2 separate regions of the Homo sapiens genome follow, and region 1 is linked to region 2. The links come from fine-mapping of genetic effects on gene expression. Tissue or cell type: lung. Region 2 holds a variant in brackets; the other region holds the start of a gene. All regions are shown on one strand. Distances are from middle to middle.

The links. PIP is the estimated chance that this variant, and not a neighbour inherited with it, causes the effect.
Region 1: it holds the start of MPDZ, and the variant in region 2 is fine-mapped to the expression of MPDZ in lung (TOPMed, PIP above 0.99). The same link has a PIP of 0.9 or more in aorta, breast, esophagus mucosa, fibroblasts, unexposed skin and visceral fat.

What each region holds. Positions count from the first base shown.
Region 1 is chr9:13,275,155-13,285,357 of GRCh38, forward strand. It overlaps MPDZ (multiple PDZ domain crumbs cell polarity complex component), which reads right to left and starts at 4,538. Exons shown (of 47, transcript NM_001378778.1): 1 at 4,246-4,538. RefSeq lists enhancers at 2,014-2,729, 2,730-3,445, 3,446-4,161.
Region 2 is chr9:13,221,835-13,232,037 of GRCh38, forward strand. It overlaps MPDZ (multiple PDZ domain crumbs cell polarity complex component), which reads right to left. Exons shown (of 47, transcript NM_001378778.1): 4 at 2,540-2,749; 5 at 1,737-1,876; 6 at 399-612. Among named protein-coding and RNA genes, the nearest start is that of MPDZ, 53 kb to the right of the region's middle. The variant G/A (reference allele first, on the strand shown) is at 5,112.

The DNA of each region.
Region 1 (10,203 bases), 53 kb after region 2:
TAAGTCTCTTTGAGAACCTTGTTATGAGCTAAACTGTGTCTCCTAAAAATTCACAGGAAATCCTAATCCCTGTACCTCACAATATAACTGTATTTGGAGATAAAGGTTAAATGAGGTCACTAGGGGTGGGCTCTAACACAATATGACTGGTTCCCTTATAAAAAATTAGGCTATAGACATACACAGAGGGAGGGCATGTGAAGAAACAGGGAGAACTCAGCCATCTACAAGCCAAAGAGCGAGGCTTGGTAGAAACCAATCCCACCAACACTTTGATTTTAGACTTCCAGCCTCCAGAACTGTGAGGAAATAAATTCCTGTGGTTTCAGCCACCCACTCTGTGTTATTTTGTCAAGGCAGCCCTATCAAACTAATACAGATTTTGGTACCAGGAAATGGGGTGCTGCTGTAACAAACACCAAAAATGTGGAAGTGGCTTTGGAACTGGGTAATAGGTAATGGCTACAAACGTTTTAGGGTGCATGTTAGAAAAAGCCCAGATTGCACTGAAGAGGTTAACTCTCAGAAGGAAATGTGACTTGGGTTATTGGAAAGTGGAAACTTCAAGAGATAAAAGTCAGCCTATACTTCATTGCTCTCCATTAATTGCTCTTCCCTATCCAACCTTTTCCCCTGGGCACAAATCCTCTATTCCACTCCAGAAATATACAAATTGAATATGCTCTCCAGTACCCACTGCCCACTCACATCCCAGCCTCTTCTATACATGTCCATTTTCAAGGGAAAACCACTGACTTAAGCTCTACTTCATATCAAAAAAACTTTCATTTCCACCCTCTCATCTCAAGACCAAAGCCTTTCTGTGTCTTATTTACTAACCTCAATGATAAGAGCAACTAATCCCTATACTTCACTACTTTCCTAGAATCCCTGTAACATTTTTAACATGTAAAACCTTTCTGTTATTTCTCCCATTAGATTCCTCCAACTAAGACCCTACACTTCTGGAGCAGAATCATGTTTATTCTGTACTCTCCCCAATGCCTAACCCAATACAACATTCTTCCTAATCCATCTATTACTACCTACTACATGAATACCTCGGATCTTCTCTGGAAACGTATCACAGGAAGGCAATGGATTCCTCACCACTGGTTTCCTTTATCGAGAAGTAGTTATTTACCTCCTTAGTCTTATTCTCCCACATGGAATCCCACTAAAATTATTTAATCACAGTATATCAATTTTACCATGCTAAATATCATTTCCGAACTGTACTTATATAAATGCTCTCCTATGCATGACACTAATTTACAAGAAAAAATGAAACCTTTATTGTTATAAATATGGGGTTGATAATGTACGTAACAATATCAAATGAAATCCTACTTTAGGCCAAATATCTATTTTCAAAAGTACATACAACTGTTTTGGACATATATCATCACTCATACGCACCATCAAGCAGTCCTAAATTCACCAGGAAGTTGTCTGCTTCTTCTCTTTAAAGTGTAGGATCTTTCTCTGGCAGATGTGCTATTTGCTCTACCATATTTGGGGACATTCCAGTCCAACTTTGCCTCAAAATATTTCATGAAATTCAGAGTACTTTGTACGTTTCCAAATATACAAAATGTAGCCAACCTGCAACTCAACCTGAGAGAGACAAGACTATGTCAGATCTGGGATGTAATCTGGAGAAAATAATCTACCTCTAAGTGAGGATAGTTACCTTCCAGGCAATTCATTGTTCCTCTCCAGCTTTTAAATCCCTTAATCTCAATTCTAGACAATGGATTCACTTGATCATTTGTCAAGCAAAATCTCTCCACCCTAGCAGTTAAAAACTAAAAGTGGCCAACTAGACCTAAATCCATGTAAAGTTACATATCAAGGATTTCCAAGAGTCTCTCTGAATAGCTTCAACTTGTAGAAATATACTAAACTCTGAGACCAGCCTCTATTCCTCACAGTTAGGTACATTTAAATGCATCTGAAAAGGAAAGATGTCTTTAAGGGTCAAGCAGAGCAATGTCTAGGTGATAGGACTTTGAAGCACACTAAAAATTGACTAAAGATCCCTCCCTTTCCAAGCCACAACCTTCAGGCCTAGTCAATAAAAAGGAGTGTGGTAAAGGGACAAAGAAAACCAGAACTAGAGAAGGTAAGTGAAAAGAATAAACACAGAAAGGATCAAAGGAAAAAAAAAGGAACATATGTAAGAAATAAGGTACACCATAATCTATTAGTAATATGTTGAGAATAATCTTCATTAGTTTGTTTGTTTTGGCAAATGAGATAGGGAAGAAGAACGGAGAGTCAAGGGGTACCCAAAACTAGTTTTGCCTACATTGCACACAAGGGTACAGGTGCCTCCATCCAAAGCTTAGTATTGTATTAGAAGATCAAGTCAAGGAACGTTTTGCTAGGCTTTTATTTTTATTTTTTATTTATTTACTTATTTATTGAGTCAGAGTCTCGCTCTGTCACCCAGGCCGGAGTGCAGTGGCGCGATCTCGGCTCAATGCAACCGCTGCCTCCCGGGTTCAAGCGATTCTCCTGCCCCAGCCTCCCTAGTATCTGAGACTACAGGTGCGAGCCATCACGCTCCGCTAATGTTTGTATTTTTAGTAGAGACAGGGTTTCACCATGTTGGCCAGCCTGGTCTTGAACTCCTGACCTTAAGTGATCCACCCACCTCGGTCTCCCAAAGTGCTGGGATTACAAGCGTGAGCCATTGCGCCTGGCCAAGTTTTGCTAGGTTTTTAAAACACTATTGTTTGCCAAAATTCCATCAGGTGCTAAGGCATACATTATACAAATTTAGATAGTTCCAACATTACAAGATGTTCATTGTAATCACTCATACCCAAATTCAACATGTAAAACTCCCAAGCCCGAAACCATCACCTCCTCCTCGTTAGTTTTCAGATAAGGTGTTATTTATTCTATAAAGGGTAACCTAAACCAGGAATTTCTAGGGAAACACGAAGGGGATGTTTACATCAAACTGTCTACAAGGCAGGACGAGGCAGTCTGATCACTTATCAGATTCCTTCTCTATGACATCAAGGAACATGGAGAAGTTTTCCTTCTACGCTGGTGAAGTCATGGTCCTCTTATCTATCTGATGATACCTAGGAAACACTAGCCTCCAACCGCAGCCCCTACTGCAAAAAGGCAGTCAGTGCCCATTGCCGGGGTCTTCCCAAGCGGAGCACCTCAAAAGCCGCACCGCGCAGTAGAGGTCTCCAGGGGCCCCCACTCGCCCCCAGTGACTACGGAGCGGCCTCTACCTCCCGCCGGCGCCTGGCCACTTCTCCTCCCCCGCAGTCTCCGCTTGATTTCCATGTGACTGCAGGCAAGAATAGCCCAGCCTTTGTGCCTCTGCAAAGAACGCAAACAAAAATGTACACCATCACCACCCAACAAACGCGCAACTCCGCAAGACACAAAGCGTCTCCCAAACATCGCTTCCCTGGTAACATCCGGCATCCTGGGGCTGCCAAATCGCAGACAAAGACGCCCATCAGCGCGGGGGGTGAGGAGACTAAGGGAGAGACAAGACCAACGTGCTCCCACCAACGGGAGCGGCGGTTAAAAGGGCGCCGGTGCCAGGGGTGAGGGACGGGGCACCGGTACCAATTAGCGGCTCGCCTCGGGGTCCCCGCGGCTAAGGCGAGAACGCAGGACCAGGAGCATTGCTGCCCACTCTCTACCGCAACCCGCACATCCCGGGACCACGTAACGGCGGATGGGGCGTCCGGGAGCGGCCCCTGCAGGGGAGAGCAACAGGCTCCCGCGCCCTGGAGGCCTGGTCTGCGCTCCGGGCCCCCAGGCTAACACCCCACCCCCAGCCCCCCGACACCAAGACTGTGCCCCTCTGGGTCAAGGAAAAGGAAAAACTTTTAAACCTCTTAGTCAGCGAGAGCAAAAGAAAGGGGTGGCGGGGGTGCTGAAAGGTCTAGGATTATCCACCGCGGGGCTGGGGGGAGTGGAGACTTGCGAGTAGCAAAGGAAACTTCTAGACCCCATCCTTTTAAAAAAGCCACAGCAGCGGCTTCCGCGAAGCGCCGGGCCGCGCGGGGTGGGGCAAGCGCACCGCCCCACCGCCCCACGGCCCGCCGCCACCCCTACCCCCACCCCCACCCCCACCCCCATCCCCGCCCCCACCCCCACCCCCAAGCGCCGAGCCCAGGGCGCCCGCGCACCTTCCCCGCCGGCGCGCGCGCAGGGCGCGGGGGCGCGCCTCGGCCTCTGGGCCGGGGCTCAAGCGCCGCTTACCCGGCTCGCGGCGCCCGCCCAGGGCCGCGACGCGAGGGGGCGGAGGACTGGGGAGCAGGGGTCGCCGGGGCCTCTGGATGCCTCGCCTCGCCCACGCTCACTGTCTTCTCTTCTGAAGTAACGACCCGGCGAGGAGCTTCGGATCAAAACGCACAGACACTCACGCGTGACTGAGAAACTTAATCCCGCGGTGGCCCGACGCCAGCCTAGCGCTCCGCCGCGCCCCCTCCCCCAGCGCGCGCCGCACTTGCGCCGACCGGGGCTGCCGCGGAGGCGGTGGCGGGGCCCAGGCTGCTGGGGCTGCCGTGACGCCTGCGACCGGCGGGGCGGCGGGCGCGCCTTGGCCAATCAGGGGACGCGGCCGAGCAGGCCTGTGCGGGGTTTTAAACTCGCTCCTGGGCCGCTCGACCTGGGGTGTGGGTAGTGGACTTGTGAGGTGGTCAGATAAAATATAGGCTGCTCTGTTAAATGGGAATTTCAAATAAAAAAAAAAAGGAATAATTTTAGTACAAGTATATCCCATGCAATATTTGGGACGTACTTATGCTAAAAAGTTCTTCGTTGTTTATCGGAAATTCAAATTTAATGGCAGTCTTGTATTTTTATCTGCCGATTTTGTCAACCTGCGGAAACTGATAGCCTGTTTCTAGCTCCTCAGATTTTCCTTATGTGCACTGCCCTGTGGATGCTTTCTGCATGGGTAGCTTACTGAATGGCATAGGATGCTTATGAGAAGCGCTTTAATCAGAAGGGTGGGGGCAGTCCTCTCACTTTCTAAGTAACTTTTCGCACATCAGGGTGCATTCTTAGTCTGATGATCCAATTAAAAAGCAAAAACAGTAAACATGGAAAAGTTATTAGAGTTGCATGGCCCCAGGAAGAACAGATATTCATTTCTATTTTGTGCCACTTAAGATTTTCTTTCTGTTATCCTCAATTTGGAAGTCCCACGAATTTTTTTCTGCATAAGAAACTCTTTTTCAAAATATCCCTCTGATATTAGATTATAGGACCAAAGGATACTCAGAAGTCCAATTTAGAACATTTAAAAGAATTTCTTTTAATATTCTGAATAAAAATACTTTTTTCTCATATTCCTTGGACTTTCAAACACATTCACAGCTGTTGACCTCTCTCTTCCTAGAGTCCTCCCCACCCCACCCCTCTTGTAATTCCATGCAATCACACTCTTGGTTTTGCTTCTTCCGCTTAGTCAAGGGCGGATGTATGGGCTCTGAAGCTTGTACAATTGGGAGCTCTGCTTTAACCAAAAAAAAAAAAAAAATCTTTCTTTAGAAAAATTCAAAAAATAAATGCCCATGTAAACACATTGCTAGGGTTGCTCCCAGGCAAGAGAAGGACCCGGAACGTTAAGCTACATCAATTTCCAGGTAGATCTGCCCCTGTCCCCAGGCCACTCTTCAGTCTTCTTTGCCTCCTCTCCCCCAATCTTTAGATGCTGGAATTCCTTAAAAATCAGTTACGGGCCCTCTTTTCCTTTTAACTCTTACCTCTAAATACATTTTCACTTCTAGCTTATGATCTCGTACCTACAGAATCTTACATTTATACCTTCAGATTTATCCATATATTCAAGTGTTTATTTGGCTTCCCTGTTTGCTTGTCTCAAACCTAGATTGCAAAAAAAAATGCAGCCGTGATACTTCTGCTCAAGCCTGGTCATCTTGTTCAGTGTCCCAGTGAATGGAACTGCCATAGATGCTACATGATTCCCACAAACTACGATAAACCCATTGTGATGCATTCTTATGGTACCCTATGCTTTTGCTTCATAATATTTTTCCTACTTTGTAAATATGCATTTGATTTTGTAATTATGCAATGTCTCTTCCCTCTTCAACCATAAACTCCATGAGAACAGGGGCTAAGTCACCATTTTATCCTCAGAGCCTAGTAAAAACTTCACACTTGGTTGGCACTCATATGAAATAGGATGAATATACGACTGCAAGAATGAATAATTTCTCCATATAACTTTTGTGTTCTTGTCATAGAGTCACCTCAAGGCATCCCATTTGGAAAGGATTTTCTTATTGCTTAGAAATTCCAAAGGGATCCTCCTGTTTGAATAGCACTTCTACTTGTCAGTTTTCAAATCTGGTCATTCTCAAATACAAAGGAAGTACGTGCATGAAATGTTAGCTGCTGGGGTAGTGTAGGAGGAAAAGAATTTCATAACTAGCTACTGAAGGAATTCTTTGAGTCCTAAAATTTTAAATGGCATTTTTTATATTGAACCATAGGGAAAGAGCCCATAAAACTGAATTAGAGGAAAGTTTTAGAAATTTAATTCCCTGGTTTATTGTGGATAAATGAGATTAAAACAAATAATTTTACCTTGGTTTAAAAGGTGCTATTGTTCTAGTCTCCTTTAGCGAAGCAAAGCCCACATGCCCTCTTTAAACAGCAGTATATCAGAGGATAAAAAGGCATCTGGTTTAGATTAGTCCTTGCATAAAATTATCCAGAGTTTGGGGATAATTCCACCCTGAAGCTTCTCCTTTTGAAGTTAATCCGTATAGCTATTGCTCTATTCTCTTTAACTTGTTCTAATCCAGAAAACCTAAGATTTTCTAGAAATCCACCGGGGATATAGTGCACTAGTTTAAAAAAAAATACCTAAAATAAAAGTTAAAAACATTAAAGTTGAAATAAAATCTTGCAGAGAAAGACAAAGTGTAAAGCAGATAGAGTAGAGGTGCTCTACTCTATGGGATGGCTTGAAACCCCATACGTAAATAGATTAATAATGCTTTCTATTTCATGTTAATACAGGCTCTGGGGTCATTCCACCTATATCCTCAGTGAGGCATTCTCCACAATAATTTGTTTTTCTCAAATTTGAGTCATATTCAGAGGACTTTTATAAGGGAAAAAGTCCTGGAAACTTCTGAGATTGGTTTAAATTATTATTGTTGGTTTATTATTTATTGTTCATCATAATTGAACAGTACAAATATAAACTATGTATATGATATTATTTTACATTTGTGGCTCCTCTCCAACTCTAAAACTAGTGAAAGGCCCGGGTTATCTACTCAAAACCTTTAACGGCTGCTGAAAAGACAGATCCTGGAAATTAAACTTTTGATCCACCAAAATAACAGAGGATTCTTTTAGTTGCCTGCTGAGCACACAGTCTTCATTCTGCTTTTTAACAGCAGATAGCCAAGACGTAGGTGAGACCCCCATGCTGGGAGATGTTACTACAGAACTGCAGGGTTAGAACTCTATGAACCAAATCCTTTCCCAAGGACTGATTTGGGGTAATCCTAATAGTGGGGTGATGGGCTATTTTTATCACCTTTAGCCAGCAGTGACTCTTATTAATAATGCAGCATTTAAATGCAAACTAGATGGCATGCTTGCCAGTCCCTCTACCTAAGGGATATCTAATATATAACAACTGTGCAGTTTTAGTTTATTATAGTTTGTAGATTTTTTATGTTGTCTACTGGCTGACTGACTTTATGGTTTCAATTTGCCTCAGATGTCTCAATTAAAAGAAGAGTTCAGATAAATTTTTTTTCAGTTTGTTCAATGTTAAAAAGCATTTTAAATAATCCTTAATTTTTTCTCTCCATTGAAAAGAAGTCAAGGTTGAAAAAAGAAGATAAAGAAGAAAGAGAAGAACATTAGGATAATGGATATATATGTGTCTAGGAGAAAGCCATTAGGGGGAGAGAATGACTAAGAGAGAATCCCAGGAATGAGAAAAATGTAAAAATTATTTCTCTTTTGAGAACATACAGAGTAATCTGTCTCTCTTCATATAACAAACTGTTTATAGAGAGATAAAGGCTCTGAAATCTCCAGTGTGTCTGATTAGGCCTCATCTCTCTAAGCATGAAAGAAAGGGCATTGGGAGGTCATGACCTTCTGACCTTGAATTCATTTGCATTTGTACCCACAAAATTCTAACTCTATAAGGAAATTCCAGGAGAAAGCATTGGGGCCAGGTTAATTTTAGGAAGAAACACATCCAAACTGTTCCAGAATCTGTGCCTCAAGTTTATGCCAGCTAGAATGACATTTTGAACTATCTTACAAAATATCTTCCCTGTTATGCATACTCTGAGGGCATAAGTGAGTTATCCAAAAAGAAAATCAAGAAAAACAATAACAATAGTGAAAAGAATTTGTTCAAGTTGCATAGTATCTTTTAGGTAATACTCCCCCTTCATGATGGCAGAAAGAACAGAGGGGAAAAAATTGAGCTATTGAAAACACCACTGAGTCAGTGGATTATGTCTTACCTGAAGCCCACTCCACCTCTTGTCTTTCCACTTGTATGAGCCAATAAATTTTTTTTAGTTCTTAAACTAGTTTGAATTGAGTTTTCTGTTGTTTGTAACTAAAAGCATTCAAACTGATGAAATACACATATTAAGCCATTCACAGTGAGCTAGACAGGTACTTTTAAGTTTCAAGGAACACACTGAGATTACCTCAGTCGGAGCTTATTAAAGGATAACTAGGAATATAAGGAAAACATGAGTTTCCACTGGTGAACAGCCAGGTCTCACAGAAAATGTGACATCTTTCTGGTCACAACACAAACACACAGAAACAAAAGGTCATTTCAGAGGATGCAGCTCTAGAGATGAGATTTTCTTACAGTCTGTGTGATTCTACCATAATTATAATCCAGTATACCTCTGTCCCTATGTATCTAGCTTTTCTTCTTCCTCTAATGTTTGTTTATATTGGGTCCTTGAAAGTCTGGTAATCGTGGATGGTCTGTTTATATTTAATAATGAGGCAGTGAGCAGTGTGGGGCTCTGTGCATACCGCAAGGCTTTGTTGACTTGTACTTCACTTCTGAGAAAGCATTACACTCAGGGGCTCCTCCATTCCAGAATAAAGAAGTCTTTACTCCATAGCCATCTGATGTCTTTTGAGAGGACATTTCTGGATGTTTGCCTGAGAAATAGATGCCTGGCTGCTAGGACTTACATATGGAAGCTATGTGTGCATGCGTGTGTGTCTAGAGTGTGCATGTGGGTGTTTATGTCTGTGTATCTGTGCATGCCTGTGATGGTGGTGATAATGTCGGTTGTTCCAATACCCAGCTTTCGCTCCTGACATTTTACTTCCACTCTCCATTGTACCTAGGATTTCAATGTTACCAAGCTTCTCTGCAGTTTTGGTGGATAGGATAGCTCCCTCCTCTGCTGTAGTATCATAGACCTAGGACACTGCTTCTCAAACTAACTGCAAAGGGTCAGGTGATTTGTTTTTTAACTTCCAATGTGTCACTGACCAATGCACTAAAAATAAATTACTAGAAAAATGACATGCTTGGATGTTGTGTCAGTGTTCAATTGCTATAAAGATTTTTAAAGGTTAAGTTTTAATTTGTGTGTGTGTGGACCAGGCTGCAGACCACACTGTGGGGAGCATTATTCCAGGTGTAATGCATACAGAAACAATGCATCACGCGGATGCTTGTTTAAAATGCAGAATTTCGGCATCACCTCGACCTACTGAATCAAAATCTTCAATTTAACCAGACCCCCAGGTGATTTCTATGCACTTTAAAGTTTTTAGGCAGTTTCCACTCCATCTGTTTTTTGTCTTCCAGGAACGTGCTGCTGTATCGCTACCTAGAAAGCCTTTGCTTCAGAGCTTCAGACAGCTAGCATCTTCTCCTCATTCAAGTCACTGGTCAGATGACACCTCTGTAGAGAAGACGTCTTTGGCTCACCAGTAAGTTAGTAGCCCCTTCTCACCTCACATTGCACTGTATTGTTATCTCTGCAGCATTTATCACTATTTAAAATTGTTGCAGTCTCCCTCCTGTCTCCTACCACCATCCAGCTAGAATGTAAGCTCAATGAGAGCAGAGATTTTGTCTGTCTAATGTCCTGTCCTTTCCCCAGTGCCAGCACAGTGCCTGGCAGGTAATAGGCACTCCATGCTGCCTACACTCTGCTT
Region 2 (10,203 bases):
TCTTCTGCATAATCCTGCCTTGAGGCAGGATTCCAAATTAGATGACTTCTTAAAAGTTACTGACAGCTAACTCTAACAATATAATTGTATAATTTTTAAAGCAAAATCAAGCTTGTATCTGTCTACAGATAAAGTCAATTTTGTTAAAGGACTACATTTTTCATTTTTAAGGAATGCTGTCAAAGGACAAAACTACACAAAGAAAAGTAATTGTTGTTTTAGAACTTAGAAGCTTTATCATGCTTAAAGAACAAATATTCCAGGCTGGGGAAAAATAAAAGAATAGTCAGACAAAAACTCAAGAAGTGCAAAGACCCTACACAAATTAGAAACTTGGAGATAACCAAAAACAACTTGAAAAATACGTTCTGTTCCTTTTGAAAATTTTAGGTACTCACCGGATTAGAGTGAGCTGAAATTGTGCTGGCTGCAGATGGAGAACGGGAAACTATGGGGCTGACAAGCTGAGGCAATGAGCCTCTGGCAATAACTAGCTGGACAGTATCTTTGGCTTTCTGCAGGATGCTGATAGCCTGCTGATGTGTAATTGTCTGATCAAGAGCCTGTCCATTGATAGCAAGAATTTGATCAGTTTCTTTCAATCTTCCATCTCTATCAAGGATGCAAAAGGGGATAAAAGACAATCTGAGAGTTCTCAAGGAAATGACAGCTTCTTTGGCATGTATGTTCAAGTCATTTTTAATCCTATTTTTAATTCCCACACTCTAAGCTTTTTCCTGCAGTTCTACTTTAAAAAAAATACACGCCTTGGCTGCAGGTCATCAACTCTCGTAAGGTTATTTCACTGCTACTCCTACTGAACCCCTCCCATATAAAAGTACTCTTTATTTCAGCTACCTACTCAGCCTACATTACATCTTGGATATTCTCATCTTCTAAAAATGAAAGTGGATATATCTATACAGTTGGCCTTGTGTATCCATGGGTTCCACATCCATAGATTAGATCCCCAACTGGGGATCACATCCATAGATTAGATCCCCAACTGGGGATCACATCCATAGATTAGATCCCCAACTGGGGATCACATCCATAGATTAGATCCCCAACTGGGGATCACATCCATAGATTAGATCCCCAACTGGGGATCAAATATACTCAAAAAAAATAATGCCACAACAATAAAAAAATCACACAAATTTTAAAAATACAATATGACTACTAATGTTTACATAGGATTTGCACTGTGTTAGGCATTATAAGTTAAAGATGATTTAAAATATATGGGAGAATGTGCACAGGCTATATACAAATACTATACCACTTTATATAAGGGACTTGAGCACCTGCAGATTTTAGTACCTGCAGGAGTCCTGGAACCAATTCCCCATGGATACTGAGGGGCAACTATATTAAATTATTGCTCTGGGTACATAAAAAAAATGCAGCTCGAATTATTATGGGTCATTTCTAGCATGGTAATTTTAAAAATCTAATCAAAAAGAGCCCATTTAATTAACAATGAAAATAATGTTATCCTCAAATTTTTCTTTCCTTACCAAAACTTAAGTTATGACTATATCTAAAAGCTACTCTCATTTCAAAGAACCTGCTATTTTATCACAACAATGTTAATGACTTCTAAAAACTGGTTAATAACAGATTATGTTCAATTTTTTGTTGCCATTCATTATTATTTTTCTAAATTCCTGCATAGTAACCAAAACCTTCAGAATGTGGGATCAAAAACAAAGAAGACGCCGCGACCATCTCACCTATGGGCCACACTGCCCTCTTGTATCTCTTGAACAAATATTCCCAGCTCTCCTCTGTTTTCACTTCTTAGTCCCACAACACTAAACCCAAGGCCTCCAGATGGAGGTTTGAGGAGCTCAAAAACTTCTACATGGCGACCCTGTTTAGGAAACAAAGCAAGAAATAAAACTAAAAGCCAGGCCATGCATGGTGGTTCACGCCTGTAATCCCAGCACTTTGGGAGGCCAAGGTGGGAGGATCACTTGAAGCCAGGAGTTAGGGACCAGACTGGGCTACATAATGTGACCCCATCTCTATAAAAAATAAAATAAAACTTAGTAAGTGTGGTGGCACACATCTATAGTCCCAGATACTCAGGAGACTGAGGCAGGAGAATCCCTTGAGCCCAGGAATTTGGGACTGTAGTGAGCTATGATCACAACACTGCACTCCAGTGTGGGTGACAGAGCAAGGCATGTCTCAAAAAAAAACTTAAAAGCCAATTACTGCAGTAACAGTCATCTTATCAGAATCATTTCTTTGTTAAAAAAAAAAGAAATTGAATAACATTTTTCCAAGGTAATTGTTAGCACTTTATCCTGAAGAATATTTCTATAATACAACATATAATACTCAAATTTAAATGATGATAAAACTGTAATAGAAAACGTCTGAACCATCTAAACTCCCACAAAACTGACTTTTTGTTCCAATGTTTTCAGATGTTATAAATGTCACTATATTCTTCAAATTATCCATAACTTGATCACATTCTTAAATTACTACAGGTATTACAATAACTAACAGAAAGAAATGTTCTTACCTGGGCCATATTTTTGATAAGCTGATCAAATTCATCACAAGCAGGTTTCCCATTAATGTGTGGAATACCAGGTCCTGTAAGTGCTTCCAGATTCCCATTGTTTGGGGATAATAAAAACGATTCATTTTGCAGAGTAGGAATCACAGCTGGGCTGAGATGAGGAACGTGGGCATATTCAATATTTGAAGTTGCTGAAGTTGCAATATTTACCTAAGAGTAATGCAGGGATTATTAAGAATTTTGACATTCCATAAACTATTTCATAGAAAATATCCCAAGGGTACAAGGACATACAAATGAAATTTCAAAATGTCCAAATCCTTTAATCCAGCAATTCTATTTTGGGAAATTTATTTCAAGGATGAACATTAGGATAATACACAAAGATGTGTGTGCATCACTAAATGTTCAATGCAGCACCATTTATTAGATGGGAAAATTCAAAAACTACCGCCAGGGTTCAACTTCAGGGTACTCATTAAAACACACCCATAAATATATACATCCACACATATATTTTTCTGTCCCCAGATCCTATGAAGTAACCTCTAAACTCTCAGAATTTCCCCTCTCAGAATTTCCTGAGTGATGAGGTATCTTTCTTCTTCATGGTGGGCCCCAAGGCCACATGATATAAGCCCAAACTCGGAGCTGAATTTTAATCATATAGGCAGGGCAATCAATCACACCTATGAAATAACACGCCAATAAAAAATGCTGAACACCAAGATCAGGTAATCTTCCTGGGTTTGCAACACAGTCAAACACAGCTATACATGTGTTTGTGCTTTAAGCTAAGTGCTATTATGAGAGTCAAAAGTTTAAAAAAAAATTAAGACTTTATAAAGGAAAAAAAAGTTACAGTAAGCTAAGGTTAATTTATTATTGAAGGAAGTTTTTGTAAATTTACTATAGCCTAGGTGTACAGTATTTATAACTTATGTATAAACTCTATGCATAAGAGTTTTTTACCTGTCCTTAAAAATAAAACAGAAAACTCATTGTTACCAAAGTTACCAATAACTCAACCATTATATTGGCTATCTAGTAGCATACAGTATATTGACTATCTAGTAGTGTACAGTAATGTCGTAGGCCTTCACATGCACTCACCACTCACTCACTGATTCACCTATAGTAACTTCCAGTCCTGCAGGCTCCATTCATGGTACGTGTCTCCTATACAGGTGTACCATTTTTTACCTTTTAACCACATTTTTACTGTACCTTTTCTATATTTAGAAACACAGACAATTACCATTGTGCTACAACTGCATACAGTACTCCATATAGTAACATGCTGTACAGGTTGGTAGACTAGGAGCAATACCAAATAGCCTAGCTGTGTGGTAGGCTATATCACCAAGGTTTGGGTAAGTATACCCTACGATGTTTGCACAAGGATGAAATCACCTAATGACACATGGCTGTACTCTATACATATTGTCACACATCGATTCTGGGAGAGTTATACTTTCCCAGCAAAATGGAAGCTTCCAGTTTGGAATCCTCCCATAATCTGCACTACGCATCTCTTCCTTTGGCTGACTCTTGACTGCATCCTTTCCCTACCATAGATCATAACCATGAGTTTAACAGATTTCAGAGACTCTCTAAGACCTTCTAGTGAATTATGAAACCTCAAGGTGGCTAGGGGAACCTCGCAAATTTGCAGCTGACATCATAAGTGAGGGTGGTTTTGTGTATCCTTATACCTTTAACTTTGTAGCTGGACCCTAACTCGCCACAGTTGGTATCAGAAGTGTGGGGCAGCACTGGCAGTCTGGAGGACTGTGCCCTCAAATCGTGCTGTCTGGCTAACTCCAAGTACAATGACACACGTAACAACAACGGAAAAGATCATCCCACTTTGGGAAATGATTCTATAATTATTTGTGTGTGCCTTTTAAAAGAGTTTGAAGTTAAATCTAAATAATAATAAAGCAATGCAGTCAATCCTAATTTCATATTTATGTTGGGTGCCTGGATTGTGACTTTTTATCTGTAACTACTTATCAGAAAGCTTACTTCATTGATGTTTTTGAGTCACTCTCTGACCTCATCTCCTAGCAGTCTGTCCCTCACCCACTTAGCCCTAGCTGTGCTCCCCTCCTCACTGTGCCTCAAAGTGCCAAGCTGTTCACTCTACCAAACAGGTATATTCTTCCCCAAATATCCACATGCTTCCTTATTTCATTCAGGTGTGCCTAATCTCACCACAGAAAAGTCCTCCTTCGCATTCCTATCTAAGACAGCACCATTATACTCCACGAACTTACTGTGCCCTGTTTTAATTCATGGCACTCATTACCACCTGATCCACACCCTGCTGTCATGAAGCTTTCATCCCAGTCAGTGGAGACCGACTAGAATGCAAAAACTCTCCAGTGGAAATTTTTGACTATTTTATTTTTACTATGCCCTCGTTCTCTAGAAGAATGCCTTATACAGAGTTGTTCAACATACATTGGCAGAAAAAAAATGTTTATCTATTTTTTAAGGATCTAACTCTGATCCAATCTCCTGAACAACCTTTCAAGTATCATCTCAATGCTAAGGATGATGAAATTAC[G/A]TAAAGTCACACAGCTAAGTTGTTTGTGACCTAGATTTTTTTTCATCACGGTGTTCCTATCATCCTTGTATTATACAGAAAACATACAGTCCTTGTATTATCCACAAAACATTTGAGATATCATTTAAAATAAAACATTAGGTAAAGAACATCCACTGACAGAAGCTATCAAAATATTTCACAATATGTCACCAAAATCTATACATAAGAGTTTGTTACCTATCCTTAAAAATAAAACAGAAAACTCATTAAGTTACCAAAGTTACCAATAACTTAACCATTATATTAGCTTTCTACAATCACAGATGAAAAAGAGATCAATGTGTTGAGAAGAGACTTTTGGGAATCCTTTTAAATGTTTATTTTAAAATCTATAGCAGGCATGATCAATTATTATTTTTTCAAAAGTAAGCTTCTTATGCCAAGATTGATTTTTTTTTTATCCTGAGCCATGGCAACTTCAATAAAGTTTGCCAGCAGAAGACACGCAGCTCAGGTTGAAGCAGATGGCATAATGAAATTTGTGACAGCCTGAGGATCCCACACACCAAGACCTAATGGCTATGGTATGTTTGCATAGGAAAAAATATTTGGACTTATGCTATGGTAAGCCAGAATGAACAAATCGCATCCCGAGAATAGAGAGTCTGTCTGTAAGAGATTCATGGTAAAAGAGAAGCTCTGATATTATGAAAGAGTAGGTATACAGGCATTCTAAGAGTAAAGTGAGTGAGAGCAGAACAAGTAAAATATTACAAAATGAGAACTGTATAAAAGTATTTAATATCAATTGTCATTTCCTAATTTGTTAAAGGTTTGAGGAAGGTCAATGACTCCTCCTGCTTCATCCCTGACCTTGAGGTCTACATAAATGTAAAAGCAGAGGTTATAGAGATCACATATTTAAAAACTATTATTTAATTATACCACCATACAAAAGTCTTATTTATAAATTGGCAAATTTATACTCATAAGAAAAAGCAGAAAGGCACCTTTGATTATGCTGTAATTGTTTATTAAAATGGCTTTCTGAACTATAATCTCTTTGAGGAATACGAGTGTATCTTATTTGCCTTGATAGGTCTGTTCATAGCAGTCATGCCACAAATGTTTAATGAAAAGATCTTGATTCTCATCCTTGGTTTATAGAATATAAAATAAACAAAAGAAAACATAAATATCTGGCAATTTTTATATACAGATAAACATTCTGTATAATTTATGGAAGTTGTTAGTAAATGAGCAAGAGTCACCAAATAATTATCTGTTTTCTGTTTAAGTTCTGGCTGAACATTTCAGTCTAAAGGGGGCTTTTATGTATTTAGCAAATAAACATATATTAATTTATGGATTTTAATTAGTGCTATTACCTAAAACATAACCTAAATATTATACAACTTATTCAATTTAAAAGTTTGCAAATTCTATGTGAAAGGGCAAACTAAAACACCTTCTAAGTATTTAAAAGTACAGGAAAAGTCCTCTTATAAGATGCAGTCAGAACCAGTATTGATTCACATACTACAAAAGGTCAAGTAAAGCAGAAAAAATAACAAAGAAAAAATATGTACCTTATTTTAACTTAAAACACATGTATATTCATTTGTATATAGGATTTCTTCATACATGCAATTTGTTCAATCTTGCTTACCATAGCATAAGCCCAAATACTTTTTACTATGCCAACATACCATAGCCATTAGCCATTGGTGTGCGGGATCCTCAGCCTGTAACAAATTTCATAATCATAAACATCTTTTATCATAAATATATTTTACAGTTTGACCTAACATAACTAACAATTTCACCAATAATTGTTTTATCAATTCACCTATATAGTTTATCAAAATATTTTCATAGAAAAACTTGTCATAAATTTGTATATTATATAATAAAGTTGTGCAATTATAAAATAAATACAACTGGTACAAATAGCTTTAAAAATGACTTTTTGAGAAATGCACATTTAGCTGGTACAAGCTAGCGAAGGACACAAACTAGAGCATCTCTGAATAGACAACTGTTTAGTGCCCTGGGTATCATTCAATATGCCTTCCAGAAGAAATGGACAGTATCTTCTTAGGAAGTTCCTCATTTGCAGGTGTGCTAGGAGAGCTGTTTCTAGAGTAGCATCCAAGAAAACATAATTTATCTTTAGTTCTATATACAATGAAGGTCACTCTGTGTGAATAACTGTATCAGAGTAACCTTTCCACTGAGAACAATTAAAAATGTGTATAAAAGCTGTTAAAAACAAATAAATAAACCACTTTAAAGGTATCAAAAAGAAACCAACTCTTCTGCCATACTCTGTTGATGCAAAGAAGGCAGTATCCAGCCCACATTAAACAGGGGAATATACAGAAGCATGAATATCAGAAGGCAAGAAATACTGGCCATCTTAGAGGCTGACTAGAATGGCATATCATAGCAAAACAGCTAAAAGCCAAGACAGAAAGAAAATCTTAAAAACCACTAGAGCAAAAAGGTATCTAATCTTCAAAGCACAATAAGACCAACAGCTGACTTCTCAAGAAAAACAATAAAGGTCAGATGTTAACAAGATGATTTAAAAAAAAAAAAAGATAAAAATACCTGACAACCTAGATTTTTCATGCCACACACCACACTTACACACACACACACACACACACACACACCCCCATCCACCCCACACACAATTACCTTAGATTTGTATAAAAGAAATACCAGAGTAAAATCTTGGGCAGAAAAAAAATTAAATCTCAGAAGATCCCTATGCAGAAAGTATTATAGTACAAAAAGGAGTTTAAAAATGTAAATCAGTAGGAATTCCTTAAACCAGTAAATAATTTAAATTTGTAGAGCTTTAAATATATATGTAATTAAAGTACATACAGTTGCACAAAAGGTAGGAGTAGGGTAAATAAAGTTGAAGTGTTTTAAGTTCCTTGCATTTTTTGGAAAGTGGTAAAAGTACTAATTAAAGTAGAATCAAATAAGTCAAGGATACATATATCTGACATATGACTCATATCTAGAATATATAAAGAAAACTCAAAATTCAATAGTAAAAAAAATCCAACTAGAAAATGGGCAGAAAAAAACAGACAGACATTTCATGAAAGAGGATATATGGCTGGCAAATAAGTACATAAAAGAAATTTAGCATCATTAGCCATTAAAGAAATGCAAACTAAAATCAAAAAGAAATATCACTGCGTACCTATCAGAATGGTGAGGATGTAGAGAAGCTGGATTGCTCAGACATTGCTGGTGGAAATGTAAAATGGTACACCCCACTGAAAAATAGTTTCGCAGTTTCTAAAAACAACTAGATATGCATTTACCATACAATCTAGCAATTGCACTCCTGGATATTTATTGTACAGAAATAAAAACCTAGGTCCACACAAAATCCATACACAATCGCTCACAGCAGCTTATATATAATAGTGAAAAATTGGAAACAAAATACCCCTCAGTAGGTAAATCCAATAAGAAATACTACTGAAAAATAAAAGAAGAAAAATATTAATATATGCAACTTCAAGATATCAAGGGCATTATGCTGCATGAAGACAAGCCAATTTCTAAAGGTCACATACATTATGATTTTATTTTTATAACATTCTTGAAACGACAAAATTATAGAGATGGAAAATGAATTAAAGGTTGCCAGGGGTTACAAATGTAAGAAAGTGGTTAAATATGACTATAAAAGAATAGAATAAGGGAGATATTTGTGGTGATAAAATAGATCTGATCTTGATTGTGGGGATAGCTAGGTTAATCTATATAAGTAAAAACAAACAAACAAAACAGAGGGAGAGGAGGGAAACGGGAGGGAGGAATTTAAAACAAATTTTTAACTGAATGATAATGAAGATACGACATACTGCATATACTGCAAACTACATCCAGAAATGTTGGATATGCAGCTAAATAAATGCTTAGAAACTTAGACTTAGATGTAAGAGGGAAAAAAAGGAAAGACAAAATGTCAATGAGCTAAGCATCCGAATCAAAAAGCTAAAATAAAACAGAAAACCAAATCAGAAAAGGAAGAAAATAACATATATTGCAGCAAAAATCAACAAAACAGGAAAATGATACAATAAAGAAATTCAAAAAAGTCAAAAAGTTGATCTTTGAGACAAAGATGAGAGTAATAAAACTGATAAACCTCTAACAATACTGATTAATATAGCAAACATAAATTTCCAGCATTGGGAATAAAAAAAAGGAACATAATTAGACTCTACAGGCATGCAATAACCATATGCAAAAAAATGGGGAAAAAAATACATGAAATGAACAAATTCCTTGGTAACACATTTATCAAAATATCAATAGTTTGGCCAGGTGCAGTGGCTCACACCTGTAATCCCAGCACTTTGGGAGGCCGAGGTGGGTGGACTACTTGAGGCCAGGAGTTCGAGACCAGCCTGGCCAACATGGCAAAAACCCATCTCTAATAAAAATACAAAAAATTAGCTGAGCATGGTTGTACGCACCCATAATCTCAGCTACTTGGGAGGTTGAAGCACGAGAATCACTTGAACCTGGGAGGTGGAGGTTGCAGTGAGCCACTGTACTCCAGCCTGGGTGACAAAGAGCAACTCTATTTAAAAAAATAATAATAATAGTAATTTTATATCTATCAATGAAATTGCATGCACTATTAAAAATCCCCCCTCCCCGCAAAAATAAAACAAGAACAGGTTTAGAGAGTTTCACTGGTAAATTCTTCCCATTTTTTTTTTCTGAATTAACATCAATTTTTTGTGACAAAAAAAGGCTGAATTGTTCTCTACTTTTTGTTTGAGGCCAACATAACCTCAATTGCCAACTCTAACAAGGATTATACTAGACAGAAAAGCTATAGATCATAAACATAAATAGAAAAATACTAAATGAGAATGTTAACAACTCAATTCAAAGATACTTAAAGAGGAAAATGATTATGACCAAGTTGGGCATTCCAGAAATGTAAGGTTGAATTAACACTTGAAAATCGTTTAGTCTAATTCACAAAATGAACAGAATACAGGAGAAAAACAGGATCAGTTCAAAAGATGGGAGAAAAAAAATAATGGATAAAATCCATGCT